Homo sapiens: one gene and its partners. Changing the gene in region 2 together with the main gene of any one other region gives a genetic interaction. Each region holds a gene or a part of one and is shown on either strand. Other genes may lie near its edges.

Region 1 (7,483 bases), on a different chromosome or scaffold from region 2:
CTGAGATCATTGTAAAACGTCTTTCTTCCACAGTTAAGGGTGAGTGACAACATTTATGATATGGCAAGCATTGAGGAGTCAACATTTCAGTGGTTTTCTTTAAGCCAGAGAGATTTATTCATTCATGCATTAATCCCACAAATTATGTGGCTGATGATATGGCAATGAATGGCATACTTCCTACCCTCAAAGAACTCAGTGTAGTAACAGACAAATATTTAGATAATTTGAGTGTGGTCTAGAAAGACAGAAGTGAACTGGATTTTACAAGAATATTGAGTAAGGGTGCCCAGCCCAGCTTAAGGTGGGTAGGAAATGGGGAACAATGTCAGAGAAGCCTTCCTGGAGGAAGTTAACATTGGAATTGTTTTTTAAAGAACAGTAGTTTTACTGGCTGAGGAGGAAGAAGGACGGCTGCTGGGAGTGTTGGGGTGGGGGTGGCGGGGTGCGTGGGAGTGTTGGGCTGGGGGTGGCGGGGTGTGTGGGAGTGCTGGGGTGGGGGTGGCGGGGTGTGTGGGAGTGTTGGGGGTGGGGTTGGCAGGGTGTGTGGGAGTGCTGGGGTGGGGGTGGCGGGGTGAGTGGATGGTAGTGCTCAGGAAAGGGACAGCATCAACCATGGTATGGAGGGGATGTGGAATCAAGACTTGTGCCTGGCAGCACTATGTTTGAAATGCTAAATGGGCATCTAGAAATGTCACATAGGCATGCAGAGGTGTGTGTCTACAGTTCCAGGGTGAGGGCATAGCTGGAGATCTAAATTTAGCAGTCCCTGGTATATACATGGTATTACATGATATTTACTTAAGACTAAATGAGGTTGCTCGAAGAATGTGTAGTTACACAAGGGACCCCAGTACGGAGGCTGGGGAGACAGATCACCGTAATATTTATTTATTTATTTAGAGACAAGATCTTGTTCTGCCACCCAGGCTGGAGTGCAGTGGTGTGATGATGGCTCACTGCAGCCTCGACCTCCTGGGCTCAGGTAACCCAGGTAGCTGGGACTACAGTCACGTGCCACCACACCTGACTAATTTTTTTGTATTTTTTTGTAGAGACAAGGTCTCCTTTTGTTGCCCTGGCTAGTCTCAAAATCCTGGGCTCAAGTGATCCTCCCAACTCAGATTCCCAAAGTGTTGGGATTACAGGTGTGAGCTACTACTCCTGGCCACCACTCTAATATTTAGAGGGTAGTCTAGGAGAAGGAGCCAGCAAAAGAAACTACAAGGAATGGCTAGACAGGTGGATAGGTTAGGGGGGGTGACAAATAAAGTGTCAAGGGGAAAAAAAGAGTCTCAAAAAAGAGGGATTGATGGATGGTTTCAAATGCTGCTGGGAAATACAGAAAAATTAAAACAGAGAAGTGACCACTGTAGCAACATACAGATCATTAATGACCTTGACAGAGGCTATTTAAGTGCAGTGGTAAGGGCAGAGGACAGAGTGGAAGGTAGAGCCACGTGTGGAAGCACATGCCTATAGTCCCAGCTACTAGGGAGACAGAGGCAGGAGGATCACTTGAGCCCAGGAGTTTGAGGCTGCAGTGAGATATGATCATGCCACTGCACTCCAGCCTGGGTGACAGAGCTAGACTCTGTCTTTAAAAGAAAAAAAAGTTTTGTTTTTTTTTGTTTTTGAGAGGGAGTTTTGCTTTTTGTCGCCCAGGCTGGAGTGCAATGGCTTGATATCGGCTCACCACAATCTCCGCCTCCCTGGTTCAAGCGATTCTCCTGCCTCAGCCTCCCGAGTAGCTGGGATTACAGGCACGCACCACCACACAAGGCTATTTTTCTTGTATTTTTAGTAGAGATGGAGTTTCTCCATGTTGGTCAGGCTGGTCTTGAACTCCCAACCTCAGCTGATCCACCTGCCTTGGCCTCCCAAAGTATTGGGATTACAGGCGTGAGCCACCGTGCCTGGCAAAAATGTTTTTTTAAGTGGAAGATAGATATGGAAGTGAGATGGACAAGAGCAACCCTTGACTCTGGGCTAGCGGGTGTTCTGGCCTCTCCTCCTAATGGCCATTCTGATGAAAGGGAGGTGGCTTATGGTCCTCTGAAAGGGCTGACCAGGGCCCAAAAAGAGCCAGGTCGTTTACACCAGGGTGCCAGGGTGCACTGGCCCTTGATTATCAGACCCAAGTCAGCCCATTCCACAGGCATGCAGTACCCCCAAGGCTCCAAATAATGTTCTTAAAACAGCACCTGGCACAAAGTCGGTGCTATATACATTTTTGTTATAATTATCCCAGTTTCTAGGCAAGCTTTATTGGCTTCTAAGAACAAATCATTTATGTAAACCAAATCATTTTCAGGGTATGTAAAGTCTATATTCTCTTTTTCTGTCTTCCTTTCTCTCTCTCTCCTTCCTTCTGGGTTCTGGTTAAGATGGAGAGCTCTCCCTGGAGAGTCTGGGATTGAACCACCAAAGAAGGGCAGAGCAAGCAAAAAGGAAAATAAATGAAGGCATACCCAGAGAAATACATTTATGAAAAACACCAGCATTGAAGAAAATACAGCACGCAGTGCACTGAAGTTTTGTACCTGTTGTACAGGTAGCCAAAAGATGACACATAGAGGGTGGATTTTTAGTTTTGATTAATTCATTGGTAACGTGGGAAATATTCATGCAGAAACAGAGGAATGATCATGCAGTGGTGCAGTTGTTCCTTTGAAGGAATTTTGAACGTTGCATTACAGTTCAACTGTCCTGGAAATCAAAAATATGGTAGAAAGTGGAGATGGTGGGGAGGACGTGTAAATATCTTTAACTCCCCCTTCTTGGTTTCCAAACGCCTTTATCACTCCATTCAGCCTTAGGCCAAATTCTGGATGCTTTTACAGGTGTTTTTCACGTGTAAAATGTGCATATCTATCTCCTAGGAGTATCGTGGAGATGGAATGGGATATGTAAAGTGTGCTGTATATAGCAACTGCATCATTAGAGCATCTTTCAACAGAAGTGCACATCCCCTCATAGCTGATGACTGGCATTTCCTGTTCATTTTTTTCCTTCTACCTCTTAACCTTACTGACGATGCTTTCAATACAAATCTAATAATAACGGCAGCTAACATTTATCATGTGCTCAAATTAAGTCATTTCATCTCCCCAACAATCCTATCAGGTAGGACTGTCATCTTCATCTCCTGAGCCTTGGAATCATATTAGGCAGCCTGGCTTCAGAGCCCAGCACTTTTTGTGTTTTTGTTTTTGTTTTGACAGGATCGCATTCTGTCTCCCAGGCTGGAGTGCAGTGATGTGATCACATAGCTCACTGCAGCCTTGACCTACTGGGCTCAAGCAGTCCTCCTACTGCAGCCTTCTAGTAGCTGGGACTATAGGCACGCCATCATACCTGGCTAATTTAAAAAAAAAAATTTTTTTTGGAGAGATGGGTCTCCCTATGTTCTCCAGGCCGAACTCGGAACTCCTGGCCTCAAGCGATCCTCCCACCTCGGCTTCCCAAAGTGCTGGGACTACAGGCGTGAGCCACCGCGCCCGGCCCTGAGCCCAGCTCTTAAGCACGCAGTCCAACACGTTTAGCTGGAGAGACGCCGGGTCACTTCTTGGGCCATACCCTCTCATCACAAACTCAGGTTTCTCTTAGAAATCACTCTTAGTGTCCGCAGTGCCTAGGACTCCCGCCTTGGATCCTGGGGCCCACGAGAAGGTAATTTAATTCACCCAGATAGAACCAGCCCAATCGTGTCCCTCTGAACCCCGTGAACTTTCACCCCGGCTGAGCAGTAAGTCTGCACCGCTGTCCCTTTCTTTGTGGTCTCAGGGCTAATCCAAAGTGACAATTTCCTAAGAAGCAGTACGGGGTTTTTTGTTTGTTTGTTTTTTGTTTTTGAGACGGAGTCTTGCTCTGTCACCCAGGCTGGAGTGCAGTGGTGCGATCTCGGCTCACTGCAACCTCTGCCTCCCGGGTTCAAGCAATTCTCACACCTCAGCCTCCCAAGTAGCTAGGATTACAGGCGCACACCACCACGCCTGGCTAATTTTTGTATATTTTTAAGTAGAGACGGGGTTTCACCATGTTGGCCAGGCTGGTCTCGAACTCCTGACCTTGTGATCCGCCCGCCTCAGCCTCCCAAAGTGCTGGGATTACAGGCATGAGCCACCGTGCCCGGCCCAGGTATTCCTAGAAGACATAGGACCCCATGAATCCTTGCAGGAGAGCACGTAAACTGGACTCCTAAGCCCGCCCCAGAGCCCCGGCGCTAGTGCTCGAGGCTGGGACACTGCTAGGTGCACACAGCCGCGGCCTGGCGCAGGCGGTGCGGACAGAGGGTATGCCATGGCGAGACGCTGGCGCGGCGCAGGCCCTGCCGGCCGGGACACGGAGGGCGGGGCACAGGCGCAGCAGGAAGGGGGCGTGGCCAAGAGCCGCCCGGCCGCTCCCCCGCCCCTCCCCCTCCGCTCTCCGCCCCAGCCCGGCGGCTCCGCCCCCTAGGTGACGTCACTGGCCAGGCCAGCCGGCGCCATTTTGAAAGTGGAGTCGCCTGCCCCTGCCGCTGCCGCCGCCGCCGTCGCTGTCGTAGTCGCCGCCGCCGCTGCCGGAGAAAGAGCACGAGCGGGGAAGCCCCAGAGTGAAATCTAGCATCCTGCCGGCTGGTCTGCCCGCCCCTCCTTCCTTTTCCCCCCGGCCCCCGTCCCCTCCCCCCGCAGGTGCCATCCGCCGCCATCCGCCCTCTCTACCCCCCCATCCCCAGGTGAGGGGGGTGAGTTCAGGAAGCGGAGACCCCGAGGAACCCAGCAGGGTCACCATTTGCAGCGCAACATGGCAGGTAAAGGAGAAATCCCCCTCGCCCCCTGACAAGGCACCGCTTCCTTATTCCTCCCTCCATCACCCCCTAGCGACCGCCCGCGCCTCGCGCAGAGCCACAGGGCGCCCCTCGGGTTTGAGGGAGTAGGGTCCAGAGGGGTGGGGTGGGGGCGGGGAGGGCTCCCGGGAGGCAAGTGGTCACGGTGAGAGTCACTGGGCTTGGAGAACGGGGCTGGCGCCGTGGCGGGGGTGGGGGTGGGGTGTGCCGGCGAGCTTGGGGTGAGGCGTGGGTGGGGCGGGGTGGGGGTGCGTGCAGATTTGTCCCTCCCGCTCGGGAGCCTGGTGGATCTTCTCCCACCTCCCCACCTTGCCCCCCGCCTTTATTTTTTTTTCCTGCAGGTCTTCATTTAATTTCTATTTTTCCCCCTGCTGCAAGCCTTCTTGGGTGTATATACACATTTATTTTGCCTCGAGAAGGAAGAGCGCCTTATAAGTTAAAATACAGTGGGGGCATATGTGTATTTTTTCCCCACTGTAGATGCCAATATTTTTGAGACTGGAAGCCTAAATTTTTTGTTTCGAACCATTTCGTTTCCGTTTCTTCCCTTTTACCGCCGAAGAGTGCAAGGCCTTTCATGTACAGCAAGTTGCATGAAAATAATTTAAACTTTGCGTTTAGCATGTTAGCTTTTTTGCAGATGTCCTTTTCCCAAAAGGGTTTGGTAGAGTTAGTTAAAATAGTTGCGGAGTTCAGAGATATAAATAGCAAGGAGGAGAGAGATTTAGGTAGAAGCTTTGAAGGGGAGGGGAAAGGATGTAGAGAGAAAACCAGTTTGGAAATAAATTTAGCAAGGAATAGGGGTGATGGGGGAGAGAGAAGTAATGTAATTGCTTTGAGAATTCTTTTTGTACATGTTGGTATTGCTAAATCTTTTCCTTCATGTAGTAGAATCAGTTGCAGATTTAGATTCAGTTTCTTTCTCCCTAGAGCCCCAGGACATTTTCAATCATTTCGACCTCAGTACTTGCACGTGAAATAGAAACATTCCGAGATGAGACCAGTTTTCCGTGCTGTATTCATTATTTAGATAATTAAACCTTTTGAAAAAGTTAACATGTCGGATTGACTTACGGTTTGCTATAAACAAGTTGCTTGTTGGCCTTGTTGAAAAATGAAATGAGATTAAAATTGTTTTGCACGAGATGACATTAGCAAAATGAATTCTTTGCCAGGTCCTTTGGAGTCAAGGGATGAGGTGAAGGGAGGCAGAACAAGCTTCCTTTGACAGTCTCTTTAGCAGCATTCATTTCGGTTTCTTTTCCTCTCTGTCTGGAGCCAGTGATTTGCTGGTAATGAATGCAAAGAAATGGGTGTAGTGTTTGCTGTGTGTGCACTTTGGTGATAAGGTTCATATGAATCATTACTCCTTACCCAGGCAGTAATGTTCCCGAAGTTTTCTCTTCGTTCTATGTTTCATGGTAGTTTAACCTTATTAACTCTTCTGCAGGCTTTTTGTACACTTAAGAAAACTCTTTAACTCTTGGTATTTACTTTTTTTCTGGTAGGTCTTGCCTGAATGTAAGGCTTTTACTGTATTTGACAGGAAGTTTGTGAACAGATGTTTAATGACCACAGAACATGTGCCTTTAAATATTTCGTACCTGGAATCTTTTTTTTCTTTCTAATGCAGTACCAAGTATTGGGGACTAACCTCTTTCCAAACTGGTGCTCTTGGTGGTAGTTGTATGTGTGGGCAGAACTAGGCTGTTAGTATCATGCCAACCATGGATACCATCTTTGTGTTTACGAGAGTCAACATAAGCAGAACTCGGTTTTAATTGGTATGTTTTCTTTTTCCAGGAGCTGGAGGAGGGAATGATATTCAGTGGTGTTTTTCTCAGGTGAAAGGAGCAGTAGATGATGATGTAGCAGAAGGTAAGAAAGCGTTTAATGCAAAATTTGGATATATAATTTTTGCAGAAATGTTTCCTACTGGAGGATTTCCTTGAAGCCGAGACTGCTATAAATTCAAGATGATTTTGTTGTCCAAGAAATGTAAGAACAGTTTTAAAAGATACCTTTCTGAAAAACAGCCTTAAATTTCATTTGTTATTTACGCCTTGTTTTTATTATTTTTTCCTCTGAATTTACATGGAAGGAGCGGTAGATGATGAGACATATAAGATCCTCACATGAAAGCTCTGAGCTCCATATAAGGGTTTCTTTGTTATGTAAATTCCACATACAAATAAATGGTGATGCATTTTTATGTTTGTACATTGGTTTTAGATAAGTAAATTGAAATAGGTGCCATCAACATTTGGCTCAGAAACATTCTTAACGGCATCTTTGATTTTTATGGGAAGATTTTTTAACTACTTTTGAATTTGTCCACTTTGGGAGTGTGATGCTGCTTGGCATATTCTGTGAAGAGATGATAGCTCAGATTATTCATTTTGTTGTCTTTCTGGTATTTAGGTGGATAAGACAGTAACAATGCTATGCATATATCGCTTGTCTTTTAGGAATCGTATATTCTTGTGCAGGTAGAAACTGTGTTTGATCAGTTGAAGTACTTACGTCTAATTTTCTCCCCAAATTTATTTTCTAACGTGTTTCAGAAGTTTAAGTTTTGAAACTTCAAGGTTTTGCATTCATTTGAGATGGTCTTAGGCAGCGGAGGCATTTTCCACAAAGTTGTTGCATTGTTTC
Region 2 (7,000 bases):
CCTGGCCTCTCCCCGCTCCCGGCACCCACACCAATTTCGGAGCAAAGTTGTGGGGGAGCCCAGGTGTTGTCAGGACCAGGCCGCGTGTGCATGTGCTCAGGACGGCACTGACACACCAGCCCCCTGCTGCCTCATCTCCCTCTGGACTTTGGGCAGGCCAAGCGGTAGGCTGAGGGCAGCTCAATATGGGCCTGCAGGCGCCCCTCGGCACGAACAGCCTCGGTGTAGTGGGTGGCAGGTTGATGGCAGCAGGAAGTAGGCTCCTGGGAGGAAAGGGGTGGGTCCCCAGTGAAGACCCACCTTCAAGCCAGGAACAGCTTGAAGCCTGGAAGCCTGGCTGCCAGTTACACGGACCACAGCGAGAACTTAGGGTGCTTTTTCCAGGCCCACCCATGACTGCCTATGGACCAATTAGCATTCACTTCCTCCCTTCTGAAGCACATAAAAACTAAATTTTTGGTGGAACGCTAATACCCTTTTCCACAGTGGCTGTACCATTGTACACTCCCACCTGCAGTGGACAAGGGTTCCAATTTCTCCACATCTTCACCAACACACGTTATTTTCTGGGTGTTTTTTTATTATTATTTTATTTTCCCCTTTTGGCGACAGGGTCTAACCCTGTTGCCCAGGTTACTGTGCAGTGGTGCACCCATAACTCACTGCAGCCTCAACCTCCCAGCCTCAGGAGATCCTCCCACCTCAGCCTCCTGAGTAGCTGGCACCACAGGTGCATGTCACCACACCCAGCTAATTTTTTGTATTTTTTGTAGAGACAGGGTTTCACCACGTTGCCCAGGCTGGTCTCAATCTCCTGGGCTCAAGCGATCTGCCTGCTTTGACCTCCCAAAGTGCTGGGATTGTAGGCATGAGTCACCATGCCCAACTGTGTTTTTTTTTTGTGGGATTTTTTTTGTTTTTTGGTTTTTTTTGAGACAGAGTCTTGCTCTGTCACCAGGCTGGAGTGCAGTGGCATGATCTCAACTCACTGCAACCTCTGTCTCCCGGGTTCAAGCAATTCTCCTGCCTCAGCCTCTCAAGTAGCTGGTACTACAGGCATGCACCACCATGCCTGGCTAATTTTTTGTATTTTAGTAGAGATGGGGTTTTACCATGTTGGCCAGGATGGTCTCAATCTCCTGACCTCGTGATCCGCCTGCCTCAGCCTCCCAAAGTGCTGGGATTACAGGCATCAGCCAACATGCCCAGCCCCAACTGTTTTTTTATTAATAGCTATCATAATGGGTGTGAAACAGTATCCTGTGGTTTTGATTTGCATCTCCCTAATGATTAGTAATTGTGAGCATCTTCTCATGTGCTTATTTGTCCATTTGTATATCTTCTTTGGAGAAATGTCTATTCAAGTTCTTTTTCTGTTTTTCATCAGGTTATATTTGTTGTTAAGCTGTAGGAGTTCTTAATATATTCTAGATATTAAACTCCTTATCAGACATATGATTTGCAAATATTTTCTCCAGTTCCATGGGTTGCCTTTTCACTCTATTGATACTGCCCTTTGATGCACAAAGTTTTTAATTTTGATGAATTCCAATTTATCTGTTTATTTTGCTGCCTGTGCTTTGTGTCATATCAAAGAAATCATTGCCAAATCCAGTGTCATAATGTTTTCCCTCTATGTTCCCTTATTTTTATTTATTTATTTACTTTTTGAGACAGAGTTTCACTCTTGTTGCCCAGGCTGGAGTGCAATGGCGCGATCTCAGCTCACCGCAACCTCCGCCTCCTGGGTTCAAGCGATTCTCCTGCCTCAGCCTCCTGAGTAGCTGCGATTACAAGCATGTACCACCACGCCTGGCTAATTTTGTATATTTTTAGTAGAGACAGGGTTTCTCCATGTTGGTCAGGCTAGTCTGGAACTCCTGACCTCAGGTGATCCACCCATCTTGGCCTCCCAAAGTGCTGGGATTATAGGTGTGAGCCACCATGCCCGGCCCCCTCTATGTTCACTTCTAAGAGTTTCATAGTTTTAGTTCTTATGTTTAGGTATTTGTATGCCTTTTGGACTTTTAAAATTTTCCTGTAGCAGTAAAGAGAGAAGCCAGATTGCAAGGGGCTGAAAATCTAATGAAATGTGAATACTGAGAATAGCGGGTTCTTTCCAAAGCTTGATCATGAAATGAAGAGAAGTAGAGTTGGTGATAACTAAAGAACTGTATGAGATCAAGAGGGCTTTGTTTTGTTTCTCCCTTATAATGGAAAGACCTAAGCAACCAATTCTTGAGATGTGACTCCTCTTCTTGGAACCAGATATAAGTAAAAAGACAATCCTTGGACAGGAGGGTAACTCTTTCATAAACATAGAAAGAATGGATGGGTACAGACGCAAATAATTTAATAAATTCAAAAGGCAAGTAAAACAAGATCCTCTGCTTCAAAGAACTCAGAATAGTTGCTGGGGAGAGGAGAGGAATGCACTTAAATAATCAAAAGCGGCCGGGCATGGTGGCTCACGCCTGTAATACGAGCATTTTGGGAGGCTAAGGCAGGCGGATCATGAGGTCAGTAGATCTAAACCATCCCGGCTAACATGGTGAAACCCCATCTCTGCTGAAAACACAAAAATCAGCTGGGTGTGGTGGCGGGCGCCTGTAGTCCCAGCTGCTCAGGAGGCTGAGGCAGGAGAATCGCTTGAATCTGGGAGGCGGAGATTGCAGTGAGTCGAGATCGCGCCACTGTACTCCAGCCTGGGCGACAGAGCGAGACTCAGTCTCAATAAATAAATAAATAAATAAATAAATAAATAAATAAATAAATAATCAAAAGCAAGTATCATGTACACCCAAAGCAGGGAATGATTAACTCTACCTAGAGGATTCACAGTGGGTTATGTGTGAGTGATTAGCAAAGTCCATCACTTCTGACAAAACAACTTAGGGTGTAGTAAGACAGTTACTTATAAATAATAGCATATATTTCATATATGTCACAATTTATTTCTATATAGCACTGTAAAATGTTCATACATTTTCCCCACTTATTATCTCAAATAGTGGTAAAAGAAAAAGAGTGAATTTTTTTCTTTTTCTGATACAGAGTCTCGCTCTGTCGGCCAGGGTGAAGTGCAGTTAGTGGCACGATCTTGGCTCACTGCAACCTCCGCCACCCGGGCTCAAGCAATTCTCCTGCCTCAGCCTCCCAAGTAGCTAGGATTACAGGCGTGTGCCACCACACCCAGCTAATTTTTGTATTTTTAGTAGAGACGGGGTTTCACCATGTTGGCCAGGCTGGCTCGAACTCCTGACCTCAGGTAATCCGCCCGCCTCAGCCTCCCAAAGTGCTGAGATTACAGGCGTGAGCCACCGCACCCGGCCCTTTTTCTTTTTTTTTTCTTTTGAGACGGAGTCTCGCTCTGTCGCCCAGGCTGGAGCGCAGTGGTGTGATCTCGGCTCACTGCAACCTCCGCCTCGCAGCTTCAAGTGATTCTCCTGCCTCAGCCTCCCGAGTAGCTGGGACTACAGGCACGTGCCACCACGCCCGGCTAATTTTTTGTATTTTTAGTAGAGACGGGGTTGCACCATGTTAGCCAGGATGGTTTCGATTTACTGACCTCATGATCCATCCGCCTCGGTCTCCCAAAGTGCTGGGATTATCGGCGTGAGCCACCACGCCCGGCCTGACTTTTTTTTTTTTTTTTTTTTTTTTTTTGATTATTCAAACCACAAAGTCCAATCCTAATTGATTACATATAGGATCAATAGCATTTACAGCTAATAAATGCCATAAAAGAACTGATACTGGTCGGGCATGGTAGCTCATGCCTGTAATCCCAGTGCTTTGGGAGTCCAAGGTGGGCAGACTGCTTGAGCTCAGGAGTTTGAGACCAGCCTGAGCAACATGATGAAACCCTGTCTCTACAAAAGAAATAGAAAAATGAGCAGGTATAGAGACACACACCTGTAGTCCCCAGCTACTCAGGAGGCTGAGGTGGGAGGATCGCTTGAGCCTGGGAGGCTACAGTGAGCCAAGATTGTGTCACTGCACTCCAGCCTCGGTGACAAAACCAGACCCCTGTCTCCAAAAAATAGAAAAGAAAAAAAAGAACTGTTCTCTGGTCCTGGTACATAGTAGACATTTAAAGAAAAAAAAACAACTCTTCAATGAATGAATGGTTCATAAGAACCTTCCTGAATTTTGTGGTTTCTTCATTCCTAATGTACAGCCTTCTGGACCTATGGAATATTTACCTATTCCCTGCCACTAGACTATAAGCTCCTACAGGTGGCAGACTGTGCTTTATTTCTCTCTGCATGTCCTAAAGTGCCATTAGACCGTAAGCTCTTATAGGAGAGAAAATGCATTTTATTTCTTTTTGCCTCTGCTACATCACCTAGAACTTGCTTAATAGAAAAACTTACTGAAATTAACAAATGTTTTTAAGTAACATAAACTCTAGACACAAAGAATCAAAGGGCCAGGCGTGGTGGCTCATGCCTGTAATCACAGCACTTTGGGAGGCTGAGACGGACTGATCACTTCAGGTCAGGAGTTCCAGATCAGGCTGCCCAACATGGTGAAACCCTTTCTCTACTAAAAGATAGAAAAATTAGCCAGGCGTGGTGGTGGGCGCCTATAATCCTAGTTACTTGGGAAGCTGTGGCACTGAGGCAGGAGAATCGCTGGGACATGGAGGTGGAGGTTGCAGTGAGCCAAGATCGCACCACTGCACTCCAGCCTGGATGACAGAGTGAGACTTCATCTCAAAAAAAAAAAAAAAAAAAAGCAAGTTTGTATATGCTACTAAATAAAGTCCTTAAAAAAAAAAAAGAATCAAAGAACAAGTAGTTACATTTGCATATGAAAGCAAAACAACTTAGTGCTATGTATCTTATTTAAATCAGCGCTGGCCAATAGAAATATAACGTAAGCCATAATTTTGTTATTTTCTGGTAGCCACATTAAGAAAAGAAACAGGAAAAAAACAATTGATCCTAACAATATATCTGAAATATTAGGTGAATGTGTAATCGATATAAAAATTATTCATGAGATCTTTTACATTCTTTTTTCTGGTACTAAGTCTTTGAAACCCACTGTGTATCTTATATTTACAGCACATCTCAATTTAGACTAGCCGCATGTGAGGTGGTCAATGGTCACATTTGGCTAGTGGCTACCATAGTATAGGGCATCACAAATTTAACAAAAAATTCAAAATCTGTAATTACAAGGTAACATGAATTGTTTTAGACAAAGTCAGGAGACATTATGATAAACCACAGTAATTTCACAAGTATCATTTAAAAATGTGAACAAAGAGGAACATGGGAAGAGGAGCCAGGATTGTGGGTAGTGGTCAGAGTTTCTTACAAAGTTTCATTTTGTAAAGATTATGTACTCATGTATTATTTGTGTAATTTTTAAAAATCAGTTTTAGAAAAATGTAAATTGATTACCATTCATTAGATCTACTATCAGAAGAAAGAAACTTGGCCGGGCGTGGTGGCTCATGTCTGTAATCCCAGCACTTTGGGAGGCTGAGGTGGGCGGATCACTTGAGCCCAGGAGTTTGAGACCAGCCTGGGCAACATGGTGAAACCCCGTCTACAAAAATACAAAAATTAGCCAGGCATGGTGGCACACACCTGTAGTCCCAGCTACTTGGGAGGCTGAGGTGGGAGGATCGCTTGACCCCAGGAGGCAGAGGTTGCAGTGAGACATGTTCATGCTATTGAACTCCAGCCTGAGCAACAGGTGAGCCAGTCTCAAAAAAAAAAAAAAAAAAAGAAAAAAGAAAGAAAACTCACAGGAGTGAGCACTTCTTATTTTGTGACTTCTACCCTGGAACTGAGCTAAGAGGGTATAACTTTTCAAAAGCATACTATAAAATTTGAGTATTAATGTAAGTATTATATAAAGCTTAGGCACCTCCTCTGAGGTAAGCATCAAATACCAGGATAACCAAGACAGAATGCACCTGCCCTAAAATAATTTGCAGATTAAAGGACAAACAAGAGGTAATTATGGTTAAGAACTGACAGGCCCAAGAAAGAACACAAAGGGACACTCAGCCCTGAGCAGGGCCCTGTCAGTCATGGCTTCCTTAACGAGGTGATACAAAACTGACTCCCTAAGGGACAAGGCAGTGAAATAAGGGTAAGAGGGAGGGTAGTCCAAGCACTGGAAACTGTAAGAGGCTCTATGTGGCTAAAGCCTTTAGAGATGCAGCTGAAGAGGGAAGATAAGGTTAAATTTCAAAGGACTGGCTAAGTAGTTTGGATTTTACACTGAAGGCAATGTGTAAGCACTGAAGGATTTTAAGGAAGTAAAAATTAAGCAAGTTTTAAAAAACTTGCTTATTTCCCTGTTTAAAAGATTCCAATGGTTTCCCATCACACAATAAAATCTCACTCCTTTTTCTAGCCTCCAAGGTGCTGAAGGATGTGGCCCTTGCCTACCCCTCCCTGTTTAACTCATACCACTCCCCTCTTTACTCCCTGTGCTCCAGCCTTCTTACTATCCTTTTAAAAGTAGGCTCATTCAGCCTTGGCATGGTGGCTGAGGTGGGTGCATCACTTGAGGTCAGGAGTTGGAGACAACCTGTGCAACATGGTAAAACCCCATCTTCACTAACAATATAAAAATTAGCTCGGTGGTGCAAGCCTGTAGTCCCAGCTACAGGAAAGGGAGGCTGAGACAGGAAAATCGCTTGAACCCGGGAGGCAGAGGTTGCAGTGAGCAGAGATCACGCCACTGGAGAGGGCGAGACTCCGTCTCAAAAAAAAAAAAAAAAAAGCAGGCTCATTCCCACTTATGGGCCTTTGTACTTCCTATTCCATCCCAGATTCACGTGACTAGCTTCTTTACACCATCAAATCTCCTCTAGTGGCTAATGCTGCTGCTCCTCAGAACCTCCTCCACATCCCACTGTTCCATTTAACATTTTAATAGCAACTATCACATTTGAAAATGTCTTACAACTACAAAGCAATCTCAAGTAGGAAAATCAGAGAAGGTGATTCTGAAATGACATCTAAATGAA
Region 3 (7,469 bases), on a different chromosome or scaffold from region 2:
GTGAAACCCCATCTCTACTAAAAATACACAAATTAGCCGGGCATGTGGGCAGGCACCTGTAATCCCAGCTACTCAGGAGGCTGAGGCAGGAGAATGGCTCGAGCCTGGGAGGCAGAGGGTGCAGTGAGCCGAGATTGCACCACTGCATTCCAGCCTGGGCGACTGAGCGGGACTCTACCTCAAAAGAAAGAAAGAGAGAGAAAGAGAGAGAGAGAGAGAGAAAGAAAAAGAAAGAGAAAGAAAGAAAGAGAGAGAGAGAGAGAAAGAACTCCAAGAACAGTTTTTATATTTTATTTTCACATTGGAAATCAGTCAGATTTGTTTCAGCCTCAAAGAGCATGCTTATGTAAAATTAAATGACTGCTGGCAGCGAGCTGCACTTTTTCCTTCCAAACAGGAAAAGCGTTAAAAAAAAAAAAAAAAAAAAAAAGAGGCTAGGCGTGGTGGCTCACGCCTGTAATCCCAGCACTTTGGGAGGCTGAGGCGGGTGGATCACAAGGTCAGGAGATCGAGACCATCCTGGCTAACATGGTGAAACCCCATCTCTACTAAAAAAATACAAAAAAAATTAGCCGGGCGTGGTGGCGGACACCTGTAGTCCCAGCCACTCAGGAGACTGAGGCAGGAGAATAGCGTGAACCCAGGAGACGGAGCTTGCAGTAAGCCAAGATCGCGTCACTGCACTCCAGCCTGGGCGACTGAAAAAGACTCCGTCTCAAAAAAAAGAAAAGAAAAGAAAAAGAAAATAGGGATGATGTTGGCAACTACCGCATAGAGTTCTCATGAGGGATAAATTCATAAAATGGTACCTGACATCATGGCAAAAGCTATATACAGGAATACCTCATTTTATTGTGCTTCACTTTATTATGCTCCAAAGATATTGCATTTTTTACACATTGAAGCTTTGTGGCAACCCTACATACAGTGAGTCTATTAGTGCAATTTTTCCAACAGCATGTGTTTGCTTCATGTCTCTATGTCACATTTTGGTAATCCTTGCAATATTTCAAACTTTTTCATTATTATTGTATCTGTTACGGTGATCCGTGATCAGTGATCTTTGAGGTACTATTGTAATTGTTTGGGGGTGCAACGAACTGTGCCTATATAAGAAGACAAACTTAATCAATAAATGTTGTGTGTGTTCTGACTGTTCTGCCAATATGCTGTTCTCCTCTCTCTCTCCCTCTCCTCAGGCCTCCCTATTCCCTAAGACACAACAATATTGAAACTAAGCCAATTAACAACCCTACAATGACCTCTAAGTATTCAAGTGACAAAAAGAGCCCCACATCTCTCACTTTAAATCAAAACGTAGAAATGATTAAGCTTAGTGAGAAAGGAATGTTGAAAGCTGAGACAGACCAAAACCTAGGCCCCTTGCACCAAGCAATTAGCCAAGTTGTAAATACGAAGGAAAAGTTCTGTTTTTTTGAGACAGGTCTCAGTCTGTTGCCCAGGTTGGAGTGCAGTGCCCTAATCTTGGCTCACTGCACCCTCCGCCTCCTGGGCTCAGGTGATCCTCCCACCCCAGCCTCCCAAGTAGCTGGCACCACAGGCCTGCGCCACCACACCTGGCTAATTTTTGTAGTTTTTGTAGAGATGAGGTCTCGCTATGTTGCCCAGGCTGGTCTCAAACTCCTGGACTCAGGCAATCCTCCCACCTTGGCCTCCCAAAGTGCTGGCATTACAGGCGTGAGCCACTGCACTCGGCCTTAAATTTGAGACAGAGTGTTACTCTGTCACCCAGGCTGGAGTGTAATGGCACGATACTGGCTCACTGCAACCTCTGCCTGTCTGACTCAAGTGATCCTCCCACCTCAGCCTCCTGAGCAGCTGAGGCCACAGATGCATGCCACCACACCCTGTTAATTTTTCTGGGCTTTTTTGTTTGTTTGGTTTGGTTTGGTAGAGACAGGGTTTTGCCATGTTGCCCAAACTGGTCTTGAACTCCCTGACTCAAGCGATCTGCCCACCTTGGCCTCCCAAAGAGCTGGGATTACAGGTGTAAGCTATCAGGCCTGGCCTGGAAAAGTTCCTTCCCGGAAAAGTTCCTGAAGAAAATTACAAGTGCTACTTCAGGGAACACACAAATGATAGGAAGGTGAAACAGCCTTATTGCTGATATGGAGAAACTTTTAGTGTGCTGAATAGAAGATCAAACCAGCCATAACTTCCCTTAAGCCAAAGCCTCACCCATAGCAAGGTTACTCTCTTTAATTATATGAAAGCTGAGACAGGTGAGAAAGCTGCAGAAGTTTGAAGCCAGCAGAAGTTGGTTCATGAGGTTTAAGGAGAGAAGCCATCTCCATAAGATAAAAGTGCTAGACAAGGCTAGAGGTAGTGGCTCACACAAGTAATCCCAGCACTTTAGGAGGCCAAAGCAGGTGGATCACTTGAGGCCAGGAGTTTGAGACCAGCCTGGCCAACATAGTGAAACCCTGTCTCTACTAAAAATACAAAAGTTAGCTGGGTGTGGCAGTGCACACCTGTAATCCTAGCTATTTGGGAGGCTGAGGCATGAGAATTGCTTGAGCCTGGGTGACCAAGGTTGCAGTGAGCCATGATTGTGCCACTGCATTCCAACCTGGGCGACACAGCGAGACTCTGTCTCAAAAAAATAAGTAAAATAAAATAAAACTATGTTTTTCATGTGACATGTTATTCATGTGACTGCCCACTCTAGCCCACAATTGCCATAAGGTATCATTACACAGTAAGAGTGATTGGCAGATCTCCACATCAATAGCAGATGGGTTCCCTTCATACTTGTAAAGCTCTCCATGATTCTGCAAGCTTCCTATAATTCATATTTTCTTATACCTGGGTGTTCTATTTGAGAGACTAAATATATGAACAGCAGCCAGACCATATATAAAAACAGAACTCTGACCCACAATCTACAGCAACCTGCTGGGGAAACCAACCCCCTTATCTATAATAAACAGCACAGGAAGCAAGCTTGCTACAAGTCAGACTTGTATAAAGTCAAACTGCTATCTCTAATGATGATCCTGGAGGCCAAACAACAACCCCTGTAGCAATGGGCCCAAATGCCTTAACTAGTATCCTACAGCTTCCTTAACAGCTTCCAACATAGGTCCAACCAAAGAAAGCCAAACACCCACCCCTAAACCAATCACATACCGCATCCTACTACTAGTTAGCCCAGGTACAGCTTCTCCATGCCAACAGCCTCCAATCAAAGAATACCTTGACGGCTTCCCTTTTTTATAAAGCTTTCCTACTCCTCTGCCTGCCTTTGAGTCCTGTCAAATGCAAGTGATGATGGCTGACTCCCTTGCTATAGTAAGCTCTGAATAAATAGCCTATGCTTTTCTCATTTGGTTATTTATTTCCACATATTGGATCTAGTAATTCATGAAATTCCATGAAGAACTAATTTCCAAAACTTTTTTTTTTTTAGACACGGTCTTTCTCTGTTGCCCAGACTGGAGTGCAGTGGCACTATCATGGCTCACAACAGCCTGGACCTCCCAAGCTCGAGAGATTGATTGCCCCCTCCCCCCACTCCCCGCCCCCAACCCTTCAGCCTCTAGGGTAGCTGGGACTACAGGCGCACGCAACTACATCTGGCTAGTTGTGTGTGGGTGCGTGTGTGTAGACAGAGATCTCACAATGTTGCCCCAACCGGTCTCGAACTCCTGGCCTCAAGCGATCCTCCTGCCTTGGCCTCCCAAAGTGCTGACGTTACAAGCATGAGCCACCGCACCTGCCTACAAACGTTTTTAAAAGATACTGGTGTCGGCCAGGCGTGGTGGCTCACACCTGTAATCCCAGCACTTTGGGAGGCTGAGGCGGGCGGATCACGAGGTCGGGAGATCGAGACCATCCTGGCTAACACGATGAAACCCCGTCTCTACTAAAAATAAAAAAATAAAAAAATAAAAAAAAATTAGCCGGGCGTGGTGGCTGGCGCCTGTAGTCCCAGCTACTAGGGAGGCTGAGGCAGGAGAATGGCGTGAACCCGGGAGGCGGAGCTTGCAGTGAGCCGAGATCGCGCCACTGCACTCCAGCCTGGGCAACAGAGCGAGACTCTGTCTCAAAAAAAAAAAAAAAAAGATACTGGTGTTATTTCTAAAACATCCAAAAAGTTCACGTGGAGCATCCTTTTTACTTCATCTTAATAACCTAAATCAATATGCTATAGGTCTCACATTTCCGGAGAAGATCCTCTTCCTGGAATGGACGCGGCCTTCTGCCCACAAGAGCGGTGGCCCTAGTGCCCGAACGCGTGGGCAGATCGCAAACTGCTGCGTCTCCCGCAGCCCCCGCGCGCACCAAGTGGGAACTACAATTCCCGGCGGCCCCGGCGGACTGCGGGCCGCCGGGTCAGACAGCCGACCTCGGCCATAAGCGCCTGCGCAGTCGCGGGGCCGCCGGCCGTGCTGTTCCCGCCAATTCCTGTGGTAATCCTTACCGTGGCGAGTTCCGCGCTCAATGGAGACGTTTGACCCCACCGAGCTGCCCGAGCTGCTTAAACTTTATTACCGGAGGCTCTTTCCCTACTCTCAGTACTATCGCTGGCTCAACTACGGTGGAGGTGATGGAGGCGAGGAATGGGTTCGGGAGCGGAGTGTGAGGAGGTTGGAGGCGGGGTGTCCTTAGAATGACAATATGAAGCGCCTTCTGTGCACCAGGCTTTGTGCCGCGCGCCTTCATTTGCTCTCTCGAGCCCGCCCCACCACTTCATAGGTGTAAATGGGCCGAGAGAGGATATAATAAGCCAGCCTGCGGCCACGCTGTAAAAAAAAAAAAAAAAAAAAAAAAAACAGAGCCGCCGCTCCTACCTCTGCGTGGTCAGGCTCACATTAGGTGCCCCGTTTACCTGCAGCGGTGCCCAGGGGGTTACTGGGGCGTAGCGTGAAGCTGCTGAGGCATGGTTTGCATCAGGAGCGGAAGAGCCTCTCTCAGAGGAAGAGAAATACTTTCTTCCTTGCAGCTGAATTTATTAGTGCGAATCGAGGAGAGAGGGGTGGCATTACATATTTAAAATATTTATGCATCTGTTTCATCTTTTGTACCGTTCCCTAGCAAATACGGAATGGTAACTGCTTTCAAATTAGGGACTAGGTCATGTGGATTTTGTTTTGTTTTTCTTTTACATCTACCACGGTGTTGAGCATAGGGGGCTCATTAAAAACATCTTCTCGGGCCGAGTGCCGTGGCTTACGCCTATAATCCCAGCACTTTGGAAAGCCGAGGAGGACGGATTACCTGAGGTCAGGAATTCGAGACCAGCCTGGCCAACATGGTGAAACCCCGTTTCTACAAAAAATACAAAAATTATCTGGGCATGGTGGGTCGCATGCCTGTAGTCCCAGCTACAGCCTCGGGAGGCTGAGGTGGTAGGATCCCTTGAACCCGGGAGGCGGAGGTTGCAGTGAGCCTTTATCGAGCCACTGCACTCCAGTCTGGGCGACAGAGCAGGAAGCAAGCAAGATTCCCTCACCGAAAAAAAAAACTTCTCATTGGCTAAAATTATAATGCCCTGAGCCAAATAAAGTAGCAAATTAACTTTAAAATGTACATTTATTTTGCAGTGATAAAGAATTACTTTCAACACCGTGAATTTTCATTCACATTGAAAGATGATATTTACATTCGCTACCAATCCTTCAACAACCAGAGTGATCTGGAAAAGGAGATGCAGAAAATGAATCCATACAAGATTGATATAGGCGCAGTATATTCTCACAGAGTAAGAAATCTTTTTTTAATATATTTTGTTGTTTTATTTTGTAAACCAAGAATGGGTTGATTCCTCTTGCGTTTTGAGATTAAATTTTTAGAGTTTATTCTAGATGAAAAGCCACTTTTTAATTGTTTGGCAAGTGATTAATCCTTTTTTGTTCTTTGACGTTCTGCATTACTGATGAAATCATTTGGGAGTGAATTGGTTGCATTTTTACTAGGACAAAAAAAATTGAGTATCTAGCTACTAGGAAGAGGAAGTCGACATGATTTAGGAAAGGGAAATAATTAGCCGGGCGTGGTGGTACGCGCCTGTAATCCCAGCTACTGAGGAGGCTGAGGCAGGAGAATCGCTTGAACCCGGGAGGTGGAGGTTGCAGTGAGCCAAGATCGCGCCATTGCACTCCAGTCTGGGCGACAGAGCGAGACTTGGCCTCAAAAAAAAAAAAAAAGAGGGAAATAAAAGAGAATTACATTCTCTTCCACCATGGAAGTTATTCTTTTTTTCTTTTAATTGTTTATTTTTATTGAGGTCAAATATACATATAAAACTTATTATCTTTACCACGTTTAAGTGTACAGTTCAGTCATAATAAACATTTATATTCTTTTTCCTTCATACCCCTGGAGTTATTCTTGATTCCTCTCTTTCTCACATTCCCATACCCATTCTATTAGGAAATCCCTTTGGCTCTACCATAAGTGTATCTAAAATCCAGCCACTACTACCAGTGCTACCAACATTATCATCTCATCTGAATTACTGTAAAAACCTCCTAACAGTTTGCCTTTGTAGAATCTAGAGTCCATTGTCAATACAGAAGCTAGAGTAATCCTTTTAAAACAACTCAGAATCTGTGATTCCTCTGCTGAAAACATTCTCTGGTGGCTGCTCATTTCACTGACTAAAAGTCCTTCTCTCCCCCTCATTCATTCCTGCCACACTGACCCTTGCTCAAGCTGTTTCCACTGCCTAAAACCCATTTCTATACTTGGTTCATCCCCTCACCTCCTTCAAATCTTTGCTCAAATAGCACCTTCTCAGTGAGGTCTACTAAAACCTGCCACTCCTCCCACCCCCTGCCACTGGTATATTCTAAGTACCCTAGAAGAGTGCCTGGCAAGAGACAGTACACTATAAATATTTGTTGAGTGAATGAACAAACCAAAATTGCCCTTCTTCCCCTTCTCAAATATATACACTGGTGGGTGGAGGGAATACATACATAGCATAATAGCTTTTATGTGGAGTTTTTCATGTTATATAACTTGTTACTTGTATCAATCCTCATTCTTTTTACAAAGGAGGAAACAGGCCCAGAGAACTTGAATAGTTTGCACAAGCTCACACACAATTTCTAAATGATAGAGCTGGCACTTAAACCCAGGGTTTCTGACTCTAAATCCCAGACCCGTCTCTCATCATCAAAGTAAGGGGAGAAGAGGTAATAAAAGGCAGGCAGAAAAAAATACTTTGGAGTTGTTTTACTTCCCCTTTATAGGTTGAGAATAAAACTGAAAATGAACTTCTAAGAAGGGTTAGGGTGCCACTCTCTACTTCCTTCTCCTTAATTTCTAAAGGGAGAAAACGTCTCATTTTTTTCTTGGGCCAAGACAGAAGCATCTATAGACCTTTATTTACTTTTTGTGTTTTGTTTTGTGATTTTTGTCAGTTATGTATGCACATGGTTTACAAAATCAAGTACTTCTATTCGGCTTTTAAAAAATCTGCTACCAGGCTGGGCCGGTGG
Region 4 (7,032 bases), on a different chromosome or scaffold from region 2:
GTTTTGACTTTCTTCTGTGACTTTTCTTTGGTGTTAGTGGATAAATGGGATATTTGGTTGCAGGGGAGTCGGGAACTTTTGGCCAAAAGTCCTTCAAAGGTGCAAGCTTTTTATATAGTTCCATTTTTTCTTCTGTTAATATTACTTGTTTTTCTTTAGAGTCTATTTTTCCTAGCTTCACAAGCATATTTTTTCTCCCTCTAAATCTATTAATAATAATATACTTTATGATGACAGGGGGCAGCTTTTTAGACATTTTTCTTCGTTTTCGGGATTTGAGAGTTCCATCTAAACTTTCACCAATTTCCATGGGATGAGGTAGACTAATTTTTGAGTTGTGAGTTACAAAACTTGACTCACTGTCTTCAGTCTCATAATTTACCTTGCGTTTGGCTCTAAGTGTGTATTTATTTCCATATAGTCCAAAGGACTGCTCAGTTTCTAACGTTCCATCTCCAAAGTGACAGTCTATAAAACCATCTGTGGGTGTTTTATTTTCAAAAGCTCCACGAGTGGTTTTAGTTAAATCACTAGCCAATGCATTATCCTTCTCAGGATTACTATTACAAGGATTATTTTGTATAAAATTATCTTTTGTGGATCCAGTCTCACTACTTTTGGTAGAAGTCTCCTGATGACCTGCAAGTTTCCTTTTATTCAATTTTAACCGGGATGGTTTATTGCCAGGTTGTAATTTATATGTGACAGGAGATAGTTTCTGTGGTCTAGTAAGACAGTTAGAAAGAACAACACTGGGAAAAAACATATAGTGTGCTGCTTGCTGGCTGAGGCTTGGCTTTTCTGTTTTATGTTCTTGAAATTCTTCATACCTAATTTTAAGTTTATTTAGTCCACTTTCATCAGCAGTGCTATTAAGAGAATGCACCATAGTTCTATTCTCCCCTGAGCATGACAGTAATTCACAATTTTCAGTAAATGATGAAGGGAATAAACTACTCAGAGCTGTGCTGTTTCCTTTTTCATTTCCTTCAGAGGATACTTTATTTTTTGAATGATTTAAGTCAGAAAAGTTGAAAGAATTTTTGCCCAATGTATTCTCGTTAGGGTGACGGTGCATATGTATAAAAGGGGAATCCTTTTCGATTTTTCTAATGTTTGTATATTTTCTACTTGGTACTTGTCTTGTAACAGATGGAATATCTTCTTCATAATCAAAAATACTACTTTCACAGGAAGATACTGGGAGGATCTCTTTCTTACTATTCTCTTTATGAGAATTTTCTGAATGAACAGTACTGCTTAAAGATCCAGGGTATTTCATAGAATAAGTGCTTTCGTTTGTAAAAGAAGTGACTGAGTTATCTAGACCTTTTTCTGTATTTTTGTTTGTCTGTGAAAGGTCTTCAATTAAATCTTCCTTGTTCAAAACATGGGAAGAAAGGGCACTTGTGTGTTTACACTGAAAGGTAATCTTAGCAGAAGATGAGGGTTCTAATGTAGCAGCATCTTTGTGAAAGATGGAGGGTTTAACTGAAAGCTTGCTTGTTGCAATTACAGAAGAGTGGGTTCTAGAATTTTCATTGTTCAATGGATTGTCTGAAATGAGGAGGGAAAAACAGTTTATTTCATTTTACTCTTTTAATTTTTAAGACATTTTCCCACACCAAGATATTAATGCTATCACTATGAAAAAATTACATCAAATTAAGTTTGGTTATCTTAACAAAAAGGTAATGCTTATCATTAATGACTCAATCTAAATATAGTTAGTTACAATTATTAGTCATCATTTTAAACAAATATTCCATTGATCAGAAATAGATTATATTACTATTTAGTTCCTTTGGGGCATAAGGGAAAAATACTGTCACTTTAAAAATGTTCATAAAATAATATGCTTTACATTATCACTTCAAATAAACTGAGCATATTTTTCAGTTTATTATTCTACTTGCACAACAAACATTAAAGTTTTCAAAGCTTGAATTCAGTGGTCAACAAATGTTATATCCTTTTAGAAATGAGAAGCAAATCATGTATCTAATTCTTTCAAAAGAAAAAAATCCTGAAGGACGAAACATCACTATAGCCTCCCTTAGCCAACTATATAGAAAGTATGATTACAGTTTCAAAATCAATAGAAAGTATGATTAAAGTTTCAAAATCATATTTATTTATTTATTATTTTTTTTGGAGGCAGAATCTTGTTCTGTTGCCTAGGCTGGAATGCCATGGAGCAATCACAGCTCACTGCAGCCTCAAACCCTTGGGCTCAAGTAAGCCTCCCACCTCAGCCTCCTGAGTAGCTGGGACTACAGGCATGTATCACTATGCTGGGCTAATTTTTTTAGTTTTTTAGAGACGGGGGTCCCACTACGTTGCCTAGGCTGGTCTCGAACTCCTGAATTCAAGTGATCCTCTCACCTTGGACTCCCAGAATGCTGGGATTACAGGTGTGAGCCAGAGCGCCTAGCCTCAAAATCAAATACATTTTTAGATCGTGAATAACCAATTTCTCACAGTAGACTTGTTTACTTACCACTATTTTCATCTGCAGTTCCATCTAACTGAGGTATAGAAAGACTGGCTAGAAGCAAACTGTTATCACTCCATTCCATTTCTTCTCCTGAAGATGAGTCATCATCTTCAGTTGAACTTCTGTGGGTATTTCTGCACAGTGATCTGGAGAACATTAAAATTCACTGGTGAGCATGATCATTAGTAAAGACCATCTCAGATGCAAATAATGCATCTAAGTTAACTCTATAATAATGTATCTAAGTTAACTATAATAATGTATCTAAGTTACTCTATAGTAAAACAATACAAAAAATCTGAAAATTGTAACTTCTAGAAAAGCATATTTACTTTGCTTTATTAACATGTCTTACTATAGTAACTTACAAAGAGTTATTATAATTAGACTTCATAATCCCTTTCATGTGAGCTAAAATACACCACAATTCCTGCATTCTGAATTGGAAGAAACAAGAATAAAAAGATGAGTGAAGGGGCATTGAGGTCAGGGCTGAAGAGAAAATGCTGAAGAAGAGAGAGGGTAATAGGAAGTAGTAAAGGTGTTCAGTCAACCTGACAATAACTACAAAGGGTTACTGAGAAATTCAGATGGACAGTGAAGTCCAGTCTTTAAGTTTCATCTCATATTGGTATTAACTTGATGTTTTCCCTTTTAATTGAATGGGCAAACTTTTTTCCTATCCATACCCAATTTTTTCTTTCACTAATCTCAACAATTTGAAATTATTATTATTTTATTATACTTATTATACTGGAACTGTTTTTCCATTAAGCCTTTCCAAATCACAATTTATCATAAAAATCACTCCCTTAAGAGCTGAAAGAGGTATCAGAGGTCCAGTCCAACTTTCTACCCAATGCGAAAACCTCATTTTTAACGAACCTGACACAATCTCTGTTTTTACATAATCTGTATAAGGGGCTTGCTGTCTCACAGGGCAATCTTTCCACTGTTAATGGCTTTAATTATTCATAGTTGTCTTCTTGTAATACACAAACTCTTTCAACTTCCATACATGATTCCTATTTTGTTCTCTGTAGCTATACAGAGCAGGTTGATGTCATTTTCCACATGATAATCTTTAAAATACATAAAGGCATTTCTCATTCATCTTGTAATTCTAATTAGATCAAACATTCTCCATTCAAAAGTTCTTCAAAAGTGACAATGCTCACAGATCCTTCTAGTTTTCTTCCTCTTCTTTCCCTTTCCTTTTTCAGTATTCTTAAAATATGGTACTCAGCACAGAATATAATATCCAATATAAAGAGCAGAATTAACTAAACCCTTTTCTAGACACCATGCTTCTACTATTCAATCTCTCTCTAATATATGTGTACAAAATGTTTAGGTTTGTTTTCCCAAGGTTAAATTGGGCATGGTTTTCACCAAATTGGTTCAGCCACTGAACATACAAACATAAATTTAATCATAGGATTGACTATGCCTATTATTACAGCAGTGACAATGTTAGAGGAAAGAATTTAACATCACATCTGGAGATTTCTATATCTGATTTATTAAGTAGAAAAATAAAAACTTTCATCATATACATGTAAACACTGAATTTATGGATTAACCTGTTTCACCTTTCAGTGATGGCTTTGGGTTGGAAATTTCAAATACAGACTAAAAAAGTTCTAATCTAGCCTATAGAAGTTTAAAGGAGAGGCATACTCAGTCTTTCAGGCTCATAGGCCTAGATTTTTCTATACACAGAGCATATAACTAAAGGGCAGACTCAAACCAATCAAGTTCACAGAGACTGATTTAGAAAACCACAACACCAACTTATTCATTTATTTTGAGAAACAAACCACAACACCAGTGTTTGCTTCTTAGTCTTTTATTTATTTGTTTTTAACCTTAGTTCCCTTAGTCTAATCAGAGCCCAAAACCATACCCTGTCTTCAGGCTGACTCTATACATTGTTGTTCTGATACCCAACAGTTCAACTATCACAGGGCATTCTTTTTCTTAAGTTCTAAGATAAGAAGGCACTTCAATTTTGCTCCATTTATCACTCACATATGTTAATACTGTGTATATAAATGGATAACTTCTAAAAGTTAGGTTAATCTTTTAAAATGTAGCAAAACTTTATTTTGCTTGGAATATGGAGTATACGCCATATGAAAAACAGATCACTAAAGGGGAATTTTAAAACATCAATTTAGTTCATAAGGTATTTTATATCATGAACAATAGTAATAAATAATTTCTGATTGAAGGACAATAATGATAAAAGTTAATAAAACAACTGCAATAACTAAAAAATTACCTCTTTTTGGCACAATGTTCTTCAATATTGCTGTCCCATCTCTGGGACATCACCAAACTAAGCTCCATTTCCTCTTTTTCAATCTGTGGTTCATTTTCTTCATCATCACTATTTTGTGGATATTTATTATTTCCAAAGGAGCGACATGGTGATGGCATCCTATTTCTTTCCCCCCGATATCCATCACTTTCCAAACCAGCAAGAAGATGTACCAGAGCCTCATCAGGACTACTGTCCACTATAAAACAAGTACAATAATCACCAACAAATAAGTTTTCTTTTTTTTTTTTGACACGGAGTCTTGCTCTCTCACCCAGGCTGGAGTTGGAGTGCAGTGGCGTGATCTAGGCTCACTGCAAGCTCTGCCTCCTGGGTTCATGCCATTCTCCTGCCTCAGCCTCCCGAGTAGCTGGGACTACAGGTGCCCGTCACCACACCTGGTTAATTTTTTGTATTTTTAGCAGAGATGGGGTTTCACCGTGTTAGCCAGGATGGTCTCGATCTCCTGACCTCGTGATCTGCCTGCCTCGGCCTCCCAAAGTGCTGGGATTACAGGCGTGAGCCACCACGCCCGGCCTGTTTTCTTAATAATCCAACAATTCAGATCACTCAGAATAAAATAACAACATCATAGATACTGGCACAGGCTGAAAGAATACAGTTGGTACAAAGGCTCAGGTGTTGAGGTAGCTCTCCTATCAAAGTTGATCCTTGGACCACCTGCATTAGAGTAATTTAGGGACATTATTAAAATAACATTGTTGTGTGCTCCAGCCAGGGCTGCCTGGGACTGCACAGGGTCTTGGCCGTGGGTACAGCTCAGCACTGTCAGCCCCTAGTTGGGAGGCCTTGCCAGGGAAGGCTGGCAGTGGCTGCAGGAAGCCTGAGATGCCACTCAAGGGGAGGCCACTGAAGGACTGGTTGAGTGCAGCCCTGGCCAGTGAGATGAGGAGGCTGGGACCATGGCCCTAGCCACCCGTGTTTCCTCCGGTGAAATTTGTGATACTCACCAAGAAAGAACCACTTATGGTGTTTTAGTAATGTACTGAACTTTGCAAAATATTAATTCAAAATAAATGCATTTTCCTTCTTAAGTAATACGGTTTTCCGTGAATCAAAGTACAGTTAAAAAAACTATTTTCTTTCACAAATTTTTTTAAGCTGTATAGAAAAAAAGCAAAGCTACTTGATTTAATGCAAGGTTTCATTTTCATATTCAGTAGAGTGTTTACTGAACATGCAACATTTACCTCTTCAAGTCAATAAAAAAAAAAATGCCTCTTCACAACACACATTTTCTCTGAATTACAATACTGAATATTTATGGTAGCACTGTTACTTACTGAAAACAGGTGACTCACTCAGTCTTTGGGTCAAAGGCTGAAAAGTCTGACTATTTTCCATAAGGTTCAAAATTGCTTCTTCATTAATAAGAGCTTCTTCCACTTTGTGTCTAGTGTGACCTTAATTTGACAAAGAATAAAAAAAATTGAAGCAATGGCCTAAATCCAAAATTTATCATTTAGAATTTGTGTAAATTTGGAAGCATTACCATATAAACCTATTTTAAATTTCAAAATGTTAATGATGCATGCCAAATAAAAACATAATAAAAAGCCACAGAAATATTTAACCAGTCACATGGATTTATCAAAACAAACACTGAATCTATAAATCACCAAATATTTATAACCTCTTTAATCCTACTTAATGTGTGTAGTTATATTACTCTGATAAAAATCACTGCATATTCAAATATATAAAGTGAAAAGGAAAGATAAACTATCTTATTTGAATACTAAAATTCTTTATTCTCTATGGTTCAAAAACAACAAATTTAGAATAAATGTTTTTGAACTCTCCTAGAAAAAAAAAATTGACAGTGCTCATTATTTGACACATGTGTATTGGACTCTCTTTTGAATGCATAAAAAATAAAGAGCTTAGTGTAATCCCTAATGGGGCGTGTGTTGGTTTTTCATGCCTGTTTGTGAACTGTAGTTGTGGTTTCCCATTTCATTGCCATAACTGGGCAGAAATAGTTTTTAAGTGCTATAAAAATACAAAGAAATGGTTAAGCAATTAAAAAATTCATTTTACATTAATATTTTTCAGAAAGCTTTCATTATATATCACATTCATTACATTTTCATGATATCAAAAAATATTAGTCCATGTGGCCATATGGAATCCTCCAACAATTGCCGTCCCCTGAAGGAACACCAAACTGAACTACCCACACAAGAAAGCG

The links.
Region 1: changes in ATR (region 2) and PPP2R2A are lethal when combined (synthetic lethality), as found in Homo sapiens cells (one study listed by BioGRID).
Region 3: changes in ATR (region 2) and PRIM1 are lethal when combined (synthetic lethality), as found in Homo sapiens cells (2 studies listed by BioGRID).
Region 4: changes in ATR (region 2) and REV3L impair growth when combined (synthetic growth defect), as found in Homo sapiens cells (one study listed by BioGRID).

The regions. Positions count from the first base shown.
Region 1 is NC_000008.11:26,287,035-26,294,517, forward strand, and holds the start of PPP2R2A (serine/threonine-protein phosphatase 2A 55 kDa regulatory subunit B alpha isoform), read left to right. Parts: upstream 1-4,473; 5' UTR 4,474-4,785; coding exon 4,786-4,792; intron 4,793-6,181; exon of another isoform or gene 6,182-6,212; coding exon of another isoform or gene 6,213-6,249; intron 6,250-6,631; coding exon 6,632-6,706; exon of another isoform or gene 6,707-6,804; coding exon of another isoform or gene 6,805-6,826; intron 6,827-7,483. UniProt on the Homo sapiens protein: Substrate-recognition subunit of protein phosphatase 2A (PP2A) that plays a key role in cell cycle by controlling mitosis entry and exit. Involved in chromosome clustering during late mitosis by mediating dephosphorylation of MKI67.
Region 2 is NC_000003.12:142,568,734-142,575,733, forward strand, and holds part of ATR (serine/threonine-protein kinase ATR), read right to left. Parts: intron 1-7,000. UniProt on the Homo sapiens protein: Serine/threonine protein kinase which activates checkpoint signaling upon genotoxic stresses such as ionizing radiation (IR), ultraviolet light (UV), or DNA replication stalling, thereby acting as a DNA damage sensor.
Region 3 is NC_000012.12:56,749,294-56,756,762, reverse strand, and holds the start of PRIM1 (DNA primase small subunit), read left to right. Parts: upstream 1-4,439; 5' UTR 4,440-4,464; coding exon 4,465-4,567; intron 4,568-5,567; coding exon 5,568-5,725; intron 5,726-7,469. UniProt on the Homo sapiens protein: Catalytic subunit of the DNA primase complex and component of the DNA polymerase alpha complex (also known as the alpha DNA polymerase-primase complex - primosome/replisome) which play an essential role in the initiation of DNA synthesis.
Region 4 is NC_000006.12:111,375,201-111,382,232, forward strand, and holds part of REV3L (DNA polymerase zeta catalytic subunit), read right to left. Parts: intron 6,245-7,032; coding exon 6,125-6,244; intron 5,020-6,124; coding exon 4,782-5,019; intron 2,644-4,781; coding exon 2,501-2,643; intron 1,558-2,500; coding exon 1-1,557. UniProt on the Homo sapiens protein: Catalytic subunit of the DNA polymerase zeta complex, an error-prone polymerase specialized in translesion DNA synthesis (TLS). Lacks an intrinsic 3'-5' exonuclease activity and thus has no proofreading function.